Linked DNA regions of Homo sapiens: region 2 is linked to region 1. The links come from fine-mapping of genetic effects on gene expression. A gene starts in region 1. The other region holds a variant in brackets. All regions are shown on one strand. Distances are between the middles of the regions.

The links. PIP is the estimated chance that this variant, and not a neighbour inherited with it, causes the effect. A credible set is the group of variants that fine-mapping cannot tell apart.
Region 2: its variant is the best candidate, but not a certain one, in a credible set for the expression of ADO in esophagus mucosa (GTEx, PIP 0.53).

Annotation. Positions count from the first base shown.
Region 1 is chr10:62,801,907-62,807,279 of GRCh38, reverse strand. ADO (2-aminoethanethiol dioxygenase) reads right to left here and starts at 2,560. Exons shown (of 1, transcript NM_032804.6): 1 at 1-2,560. The coding sequence starts at 2,220. The coding sequence ends at 1,408. RefSeq lists enhancers at 1,956-2,075, 2,546-2,805 and a silencer at 2,256-2,505.
Region 2 is chr10:63,626,967-63,632,339 of GRCh38, reverse strand. No RefSeq gene overlaps it. Among named protein-coding and RNA genes, the nearest start is that of REEP3, 110 kb to the right of the region's middle. RefSeq lists a silencer at 1,685-2,014 and enhancers at 2,485-2,534, 2,545-2,724, 3,115-3,324. The variant C/G (reference allele first, on the strand shown) is at 2,891.

The DNA.
Region 1 (5,373 bases):
CGGAATCCTATAAATAGTAAAAAGGGAGAAACAGTGCTCCATGGCCTGAAGCAAATGGTGTCAATACATGTGTAAACAAGGTAAGACTGCTCGGACTATTAAAAGCACAAAAATAAAACTAGTCACAGATAGCAAGACTTCATTTCAGGAGTTGGGAGTGGGAAGTAGGAAGTGTTTAATCCCAAGTTTTGGTGCCCTAAAATGGCTAGTAGTATAGTTAATTCTCAATTCTCTAGCTGTGATCTTCTGTGCCTTCTATCTCTTCCTAAGGAAAACCACATTAGATGAACCCAGGGCTCAGTCATTTTAGGGAGAGGGTTGAGACAACACTGCCAGCAACACAGCTGGAATCACCCGAGTCGGGAACATTAAAGTTCCTGAGAGAATATGAAACAACTATCAACATAATATTTCTCCCTACTTTTACAGTAAAATATTGGAAGTAAATAAATATAGGGAATGCAACAACTGGCTAGGAGTGTTTTACATTCAGTTGTTTGGAAGCATAACACATTCAGCTCCTTTGAATCTTCCCGTTAGAAAATACAGAATTACTCTATCACCTTTTAAGGTACAGTAAGACAAGAAAAAAAGTCATGTGAGGATAATACAGTCTTTGCATTAAAGGTGAATCTGCAACATGAAATCTGCTCGACTCACAGATCTGGAGATTCATAGGGAAGATAAGCTCTAAGTGACCATGTCACAGAGATATGCAGGTGCTGAATTTCTTAGTAGATGCTGCCTGAGTAAACCAGATGTGGCTACTGGGCAAAGGGAGGAAAGAAAATAAATCTTGTCCTCTACATGCATAGTTATGTTGTGAGAATGATCCCCAAACTGAAAAAATCATTTAGTTTTCACAAGGAATTAATTAGGCAGGCCAGCTCACTTTAAACAGTAGCTCATCTCCTTAAACCTAGTTTTTACCAATGACTTGAACTAAAAACAATTCAAACCACTGGGTCATGCACAGTCAATAAGTTAAAAAACTATAAGAAAAAAAGGCATAAGGGCATGAGTGGAAAATAAACCCTATTTAACTAAGGGGTAGGGAGTGGGAGCAAGAAAACCACTTAGTATTTTGTATAGAATGGGGAAGAGAGGAAGATATTTTCATTATGGCTTTAGGATGGAAGCGCTTCAGATAGTCCCCTGCCCCATTCCTCCAAATCAAAGCCCCAGTGGCAGTGACAGTACCAGGAAACAATCTAGCCTCCCCGCCCACCCCGCCCCCATAACCGTGCCCGGCGGCTGCTGTCCAGTCGCCCGTGCTTCCCAAGGCTGCCGAGGAAGCGGCTGCTGCTCATTCCAGTAGATCCAACGCCCAGGCTAGGGGGTAGAGACACAGCCCTTGTGGTAGGGTAGGGCACGTCTTCGGCCCACCGCTCCTGGGCGCCAGTGGCTTCAAGGGAAGACCTTGGGACCTGGATAGGGTTCTCCCTCGCACCAGAAGTCATCGGCCTGTGGGGTCTCCAGGAGCCACACCTCTCGAGGCAGGTCACAGGCCGAGCTGGAGGCCTCCTTGGGCCTGACCGGCTCCAGCACCCGGTAATAGTGGCAGTCCCGGCCATCGTCCGGGTCGTAGGGCGGGGCCAGGATGTCCAGGAAGGCGGCAGGCCCTTCCACGGCGTCGATCTGGTGCAGGTTGTCCCGGTGCGGTGTGAGGATGCAGGGGCCGCTGGCCTCGGTGTACTCGGCCCGCGAACGCAGCACGCCCGGCCGCACGGCTTCTCGCTCCCGGGGCTGCAGCGGCGGCTCGAACTGCTGCTCGGGCGGCAAGGCCCGCGGCCGTTGCCCGCCGCCCGCGTCTAGCTTGTCCATGCAGCTGATGCGCACGGTGCCGTACAGCACCTTGAGCATGCCGTGCATGCCCGGGTGGTCGTGCAGCGGGATGGACGTGCCGCTCTTGAGCAGGAACACGCCCAGGCTGAAGCCGTCCGTCTCGTAGATGTGCATGTAGGTGACTGGCGGCAGGTTGGGCGGCAGCGGCTGCAGTGTGGCCTTGCGCGGGGCGATGTTCAAGTCCTCGGCGCGGAGCTGGGTCAGGAGGCTCTTCAGCTTGCTCAGGTTCTCGGGGAAGCCCGGCTGCATCGGCGCCTCCGGGCCAGAAGCCGCGTCGCGATCGGAAGCGCCGCGGCCGCCCCCGCTGCCCCGGAAGGTGAGGCAAGCCTGGCGGGCGATCCGTTGGATCAAGGAGGCCATGTTGTCTCGGGGCATGGTCGGCTGCTCCTCTGCGTGCCGGGACCGGCCCCCTCCTTTCCTCCGCCCCTTGCGGTCCCCGGCGGCCGCCACGGCTGCCCCCAGCCCGGGTCGAGGCGGGAGGCCCCGCAACCACCGGCCCGTCGGGCGCGCGGCACCGCCGCCAACCTCAGCAGCCACGCGCCCGCAACTGCCCGGCGCGCTCGCCTTGAGCCCCCTCTGAGCGCGCACGCGCACGCCCCACACCCCGCACTCACGCTCCGGGAGCAGATAGCGGCCGCGCAGACGGTGCCAGGCTTTGCCTTACGCCCGGCGCTCCATTCATGCGGCCCGCACCTACGACGGTGGCCGGGCGCCCGGGGACCCTGCGGAGCATGCCGGGACTTGTAGTCCGGCCTTCCGCTTGAGCTCTGAGATAGTTCAGTTTGTTGATTGGAAAATAGAGGAACTATTACACATGTTGGGCATAAAGCGATCTTTTTCAGGATGCAGAGGTGTTTTTCTTGTTTTAGAAAAGATGAATCGGGGTGGAAGATTAGTAGCCACTTGACTACAACTCCCGGCACTCCCCGCAGGGTGGAGTGACGCACTTCCGTCAGCTGGCCCCCGGAGTAGTGGAGGCTCTTGGCCTTCATAAGGAAAGGGGCAGGGAGGGTCGTTAACCTTCTGGCGCCGCGCTGGGGCCTGGTTAGCCATGCAGGGTCGCCTTCCTTTGGCCTTGCCCCTGGGAAGGAGGCTGTTGAGTCAGCCTTAGCTCCTCGTAGCGGCCTAGGCAGCACTGTCTCCCACGGGAATTGCAGGAGGGCGCTTTTATAATTTTGTGTTTCCTAGGAGGGGAGGGGGTCCAGGCCGTCCTCTGTGATCATCAAGGTTACTCGGCCCAGCTGGGCCCAGCTGGGCCCAGCTGTTGTTTGCATCAGGACCTGATGACGCTGCTCTTCTGGTTACAGAGCAGTATAGCTTTTTGCTGGAGAGACTTGAGAGGCCATTTACAGTGGTCGTGGATTCTGAACATACTAGTGGTTATCAAATCTTGGTTTGCCTGAGAAGGGGGAGCGGGCTTTTATAAATGCAGATTCCCTGTCGTCACCCAGAGATGGAGTTACTAGATGGTTCTGAGGCATCCTAGGAGAAATAGTGGTGTGCAACAGTCAGTTCAGTCAGTAATTGTGAAATTGTTTCACTACACAGAGGCATCCTTCTCCTTGGCGTGAACTAACTTTTGGCATAAGTAAATGACTAGAAAAGCAAGACATTAGATACTATGACTTTAAACTTAACCCTGAGTTTAAAGTCTTTTTGGATTCCAAAGCTGAACATGGGTTTCTTGTACATTTTGTAATTGGAGTGGTTCAGTGAATCCTCTCCAGTTAAAATAGGCATACTTTTTAAAGTGGATTACATAACCTGGCTAATGAGTACTCACAATATGCCAGGCACTGTGTTAAGTGCATTATATAATGAATGTTATACTATTTAATCCTTGCAGCAACTCTTAAGAGGCAGGCACTATTATTATTCCCAGATTGCAGATGAGGGAATAAGTTGTAGGATAGTGAATACTAAGTACCCAGCAAAGCATGAGCAGCAGAGCAGAAATAAGTACAGTCTTACCAAAAACAGCAGCTTGAATTGGTGTAAAAGCACCAAACGAGAGTCAGGATATTGTTGTTCCAGCCTACTGTGTGTACTTACAAGCTGTGTGTCGTTAGGCAAATCCTACCCTTTTAGGGCCTCAATTTATTCATTTGTAGAATGCCGGTGTTAAGGGAACAAAAGTTCTGAACCCTACTCATCAGAACCCCCTGGAGAGCTTAAAAAATAAAGATCTTGGGGTCACACCTCAGAGATTTTGATTCAGAAGAACTGGAGTGAAGCCTATTTTTTTGTGTGTGGTTTTTTTTTGTTTGTTTGTTTGTTTGTTTTGAGGGGTAACAAGGTTTATCGTGAAGAGCGAAATAACAAAGCTTCCACAGCTTGGAAGGGGACCACAGCGGGTTGCCCCTATGATTTATATTTAAGATGCTTCCTCAAGCAATTATTATTATTATTTTTTTTTTTGAGACGGAGTCTGGGTCTGTTGCCCAGGCGGGAGTGCACTGGTGCGATCTCGGCTCACTGCAAGCTCCGCCTCCCGGGTTCACGCCATTCTCCTGCCTCAGCCTCCGGAGTAGCTGGGACTACAGATGCCCGCCATCACACCCGCCTAATTTTTTTTTCTGTATATTTAGTAGAGACGGGGTTTCACCATGTTAGCCAGAATGGTCTCGATCTCCTGAGCTCGTGATCCGCCCCCCTCGGCCTCCCAAAGTGCTGGGATTACAGGCGTGAGCCACGGCGCTCGTCCAAGCGATTCTTGATCATTAGCTCAGTTTGAGAACCACTGGTAGAGCTGTAAATAGTGAACCAGCTTTCATTAGTTAAGAGGGTGGTTATTTGCTTTAGGAAAGGATTGTTAAGACTGATTCATTTTTAGAGGTTGCCATGCCATTGTTACGTTATTTAAATGTACTTTCAAAGCTGATAAATAAATTTCATACAGTCTTTTTTCTAAAGTGAGAAGTATTTGAGAGTAAAATTCTTCCCCTTCCTTTATTTACAAATATGGACTTTTATTTATTGGTTTTACTTCTATTAGGGTATAATTAGTGGTAAGTATAGACTCCATGGAACACAGACTATATTAACATGCAGATCTCTTGCACTTAATGGTTGTCCACACTTACTTAACTGAAGCTCAAAATTTTCATCTATAAAATGGGATAATATACCTGTGTAAATCACTGATGACACTATGTAGAACATAGTAGCTGCCCCATGACAGTAGCTATTATAGGTTTAAAATGGCTATAAGTTGTACTTAAAGACCAATGAATTTAAATAATACTAAGCAAGTATTGAAATGGAATTTGACTTGTTTTGAGAATCAGCTTCAGGGTAGAGATAAAAAAGATTATTGCTTAAACCATTTACCTGGTAATTTGCTAGTCATCCTTTGGCCTGAGTTCAAAGTTTCCGAAGACTGCCTGTATCAGAATCACTTGGGAGTGTCTGTCAAAAGTGCAGATTCCCAGATCACGTCAAAACCTACTGCATCTGAATCTTTTGCACATTAAAAATTTTAAGAACCAGGCAGGCATGGTATGGTGGCTCATGCCTGTAATCCCAACA
Region 2 (5,373 bases), 830 kb before region 1:
ACATCTGTTAATACCTTATCATCACCCTAGTGAAATTTTCTGAAAGAACGAACAATCTTCTTTGGGAAGTGGTTATAATGGGAAACCCAGAAGTCAAATCCATGTTTTAAAAGGCTTTCACAGTATGACGAAAGACTAGGTATGCATCATTATCATTTCATCCAATTTCCTCTAGTTAGACTGAAAGCCCTGCCAGGGCAAGGACTGGAGATGTGCCTAGAGTGTTGTGGGTTTTATTCATTCAACGAATGTATTAAAACTCATACTCCTTTTAAAAAAGGATCTCTGGAGGCTACCCAGTTACCATTGCCCACACCTTTCATTTTGGTGGTAAACAGTCTACTCACATTGATAATAACAATTATGTTCTTCCTATGCATTAAACTTTGTGTTAAGCACTTGATTTGCAGTATCATTAATCCTTAACCCTTACACCACTCCTATGCTACTCTAAAATATACAGTTACATTTTAGAAATGATGAAGCTTGCCAGGCATGGTGGCTCACGCCTGTAATCTCAACACTTTGGGAGGCTGAGCTGGGAGGAATGCTTGAGGCTAGGAATTTCAGGCGAGCCTGGGCAACATAGTGAGTCCCCTATCTCTAAAAAACAAAAATAAAAAATTAACCAGGTGTGGTGGCATGCGACTGTAACCCTTGCTGGTTGGGAGGCTGAGGCCAGAGGATAGTCTGAGCCCAGGGGTTTGAGGCTGCAACGAGCTAGGATCGTGCCATTGTACTTTAGCCTGCGCAACACAGTGAGACCCTGTCTCTAAGCAGCACCAGGGGCAAAAGACATTATGCAATTTGCCACAATTCACAGAAATAAGCAATGGAAGAGCTCATATTTGAAAACTTACCGCAGGCATTTAGTATCCTGTTTTGTTTTGATTCTTAGTGAAGCCTGGCAGTCTTTGGGAGAGGAAACCCCAAGGCTTGTTCAGAGTTTCAGCTGGTGAATAAGGTGGGACCCATTCATGCACTTCGCCCCCACCGGGAGATGTGCCATAAATTGAAGACTGTGAATAGTCACTGGTTTTGTAAAAGACTATGTGTCAACTGGGACCATCCGATGAAAAAGGACCAACATCATTTAACATAATTTTCTTGTTGGTTATGATTTTTTCTCTAAGGATATTTCCCCCCTCTGGTTTTCTAAATTGTCACAAAACATTTGCGCAACGACCTGGGGTGTTATGACACCCTTAGATGAAAATCTGAGGACAGCTTGGATGAAGAATAACTTTTAAGTAACAACATAGTCCGCCCTCGCCTTGGTTAAACAAATCGAATGGAAACGATTTGTTCAAGATGGGAGCATCAAATAGACGCAAGCTCTTCGAAACAGCCCTGATTCCCTGGCAAACGCTGTTGCTTAGCGAAACGTCAAAACCCCTGCGTGCAAACAAACGTCTGAGGGGCGCACCCGCCTTGAGCAAGCTTCTCCCGGCAGCTCGGGCTTTGGAGAACGTCTGGAGGACATTGGTAGCTCCTCCCTCTCCGGTTAAGGACTTGGTAGGGGGAAGAGGGCAGAGGATCCAGGATCTCCGGGTCGGGTCATCTGGGTTGACGCGTCCTGACACCCAGGACGGTGCAGGGGAGCTCCGGGGCGAGTCGCTTCGCGCCAGGAAAGGCCTGCGTCTCAGCGCTGGAACAGAGGGGAGAAGCAGAGGGGAGCCCCGCCCTCGGTCCAGTTCTGGAGCAGTGCGCCCCTCCCCCGCCCCGGAAACGTCCCCGCCGCCCCTCCCTCCACCACCACCTCCCGGGGACCTAGGTTGTAAAATCCCACGCAGTGGGGCGGGCACGGTGACGGGGGTGGGGCGGGTGGCGTAAGGCGCCACCGCCCACTGGCACGGCACCAGCGCCCTCCAGCACCCAACCGCCGCCTCCCTCTCCCCGGCGCGGCTCCAGCCTCCCCCCGCCAGCCCAGCCCCCCCAGCGTGGCTCCAGCCTCACTGCACCCACCCACCCTGCACCGCAACCTCCCAGCACCCTAGCTGCCCGGCCGGCCCAGCTCGGCTCTGGAGGGCGTCCCTCGCATCTGGACTCCCTCTGCCCGAGGGAGGAGCCGCAGCCGCGGTCGCCCCGCCCCTGGCGTTCTTTGACTCCCCCGGCCTCTTGGACATCTGGGTGCGGGGGTTAGTGCATCAGATGTGGCTCCTGGGCCGCCAGATGTGCGCGTTCCCCGCCCGGGGCAGGCGGCCGGCGAGTCTGGGAGGACGCGTGGGAGGGGCTGGGAGTTTTCCCTCCTAGCAGACTTAAAAGCCAGCAGAACCTCCAGCCCCCTGGGCTCCCGGCCTGGGCCTCCTGGGTCTCCGGGACGCACTGCCCAACGGAAAAGTTTTCAGCCCAGTCTGTGCCTCGCCGCCAAGCAGCCCTTGGGGCTTCTCAAAGTGGTAGAGAAAATAGGACAGCTCTACAGGATGCCCCAAAGAAAACCCTCATTTGTCGACCAGGCGACCTTAGTGCTGGCGTGGGACTACAGCTGCGCAGCCAGCAAACCCCAGTTGGGGGAGGGGGAGAAGTGGCAGTAGAGTTCGCATCTGGGGCTTGCTCTAAAGCGCTCTTTGACTGCTTTTGGATTCCATATTTGAAGTTGAGAGTCGTATTCCACCTGGTACAGGCAGTTCAGGGCAGGAGAAAAGCCAAGTGAACTCTGTGACTCAATCCCCTTGGAATGTGCCTGGAATAATAATAGGGACTTGAAAGGGTTTTATGGCCGAGGTGGCTAGTGGAGAGCAGTCTCCTACGCCTTGCAGTTGGCGGTCGGCCGAGGGGGGCAGTATTGCCTTATGCAGAGCTTCTGCGCCTGCAAACGGGACAAAAATAGTCGGAGCATCTGGTTTAAATCAACCAAAAAGCATTTCTATCAGCTTAATCCACCGGCCTA[C/G]AGAACTGACAGAACAGGACAAGCCAAATATATTCCCGGTACTCTTTTAACACTCCAATAATAGCTAAGCCCAATCACACTTTACCGCTGGGATTTCTGTGTCCTACCATACAACTGTCGTTATTTTATAGATGTTGCAAATTAAACTTCCTTTTCTGGAGTTGTGTGTGGGCATGTGCTTAAGCAGTTACATTTGCAAGCAACGCTCGACTACGCTGCCCTTTTCGTTTTCCTTTTTCTTTCTCTCTTTTGGTATGAGGTCTTAGAATAGTCAAAAGTATCTAAGGCCAACATATGGGTTGCTTACACCACTAAATATATAGCTGCATTTCCCTCTCTTAACGCCCTAATCAGGATTCCAAAGGCAAGTTGGAACAAAAGAAAAAACGTGTCTGAGTGTAAAGGGAGAATTTGTGCCAAGAATTACAGTCGCAGGGTAAATAACCTTGTTTTCTCCTTCATCAGTGGCCGCTACCAAGTCCCGTTCTTGGAAAGTGGCCAACAGTCTGTCTGGTGGAGGGTGCTGCTAATTAGAGAGAGCCCATAAACCTCTCTGTCAAAGAGGGCATGTGACCTTCTCTTCAAGTCTGAACAATAAAGCCGGCGAACTGCAGACTGCACTCAACACTGGCTGCCCCGCGGATTCCCTAAATAGGAACAGGATGAAGGCCAGGCTCAAGAGGTTACCATAGCTCTGCTCCCACACTTTGAGGAATCGGTCACTCCACTTCCCCATATAACTTGTTTCAATTACTCTCTACAATCTATTTAGAGGAGAGCAGCTTGCAGAGAGCACTCATTGTCTAATCTAAATGAGGAAGCAATTATTACTTGCTGCAGTCTAATGTGCTTTGAGACTGGTGGGTCAAAGAGCAACCTGATTTCTTGTAACGTGTCTTTGCACTTTGGAAGATACACCTTTTTAATGACATTTATTTACTCCTGCTTTTAGGACACATTTTTCTTTCTATTAAGATTACAAAATTAAGGTGTTTTTCCCCTTCTCAGTCTTCAATGTCCTTTTTAATTTTAGAATTTAAGCTATTGTAAACACCCCAAGTACTTTTGCATATTGTTTAATGTTAAATATTATTTTTTTTAGTGCTTTCTTATAGGCATGTTCTCTGATTATAGCAAAATAGAGTTCTCTAAGTCTTCCCTTCTTTGTTTAATTTACCTCCCTGGGAGCCCCCTTGCTAGCTTTAATTTTATACAACATGTTGTAAACTATAAATAATACAGCTCCACTTTCCTAGAACATATGGAAACTGTCGCCTGCTATATATCCTAACTGTACTTGCTTTCAGCTTAAAGACTGAATAAAGTTAATCTCCTGTGTAAAAAGGCATTTAGCCTTTTGTGTGTGTGTGTGTGCATTTTATTAGTTAAAACCCAGTATGGAACAGCACATGAAATTCTTGTTGTGAACAGAGCACATAAAAGGGTTTACAAGGTGTGGTTTGAAGAGAGGAAGCCGTGGAACAAATGTTGGTGGAAAGGAGAGGAAGGAAGGAAAGCACTTCCTGAGAGGATACTCCTCCTGTTTCAGCTGCATCCTCTCTTCAGATTCTTCCTGTTTGTCTTAGTCCATAACTGATAGTAAATTATTTGTCTTCATTTTTTTCTATTCACTTTAAAAGCATCCTTTCTCTCTGTACTAAAGCTACTCTTGAAACCAAATCCATTAACTTCCAATGACTTAACAACTTTACTTCATTTAACATTCTGATAATCTGAAACTTTTGTATTATATAATACATGTATGGAAGGAATCATTTCCATGTTAACTTTCCAAGTATTCTGTGATCTCTAAGACAACCAACTGTGACGTAATTAACAACAGAGTCCGAAGTCACAAACATTGCGGTTGCTTGGGTCGTAGGTTGGTCACTGTTTTTTGTTTTTGTTTTTGAGACAGCATCTCACTGTGTCACCTAGGCTGAAGTGTGGTGGTGCAATCACAGCTCATTGTAGCCTCAATTTCCCGGGCTCAAGCGATCCTCTTGCCTCAGCCCCGCAAATAGCTGGGACTACAGGTGTGCGCCAGCCACCACGTCCAGCTAATTTTTGTATTTTTTATAGAGATGGGGTTTTGCCATGTTGCCCAGGCTGGTCTCCAACTGTGCTCAAGTGATCCGCCCGCCTCACCCTCCCAAAGTGTTGGGATTACAGGCATGAGCCACTGCACCCGGTCACAGGTTGGTCACTAGTGAGTCTCTGCGTATTTGTAAAATCGGGATGATGCCTCTTCGCAAAGTGTGAAAACAAACATATACTACTGTTGGTTATCACAACTGAATGTAAGGGGCATCACAAGCCTTATAAAGTATTAATTCTTCTTCCAAATACATCACGTGCTACAACATCCCCTTTCGTTACAAGATAAATTAATAAAATATTTATAATTTCTACATACTGAATTTATGACTTTATATTTTGAAGTGGAGTTTCTTTTGGAATTTTTTTTTTTTGAGACAAGGTCT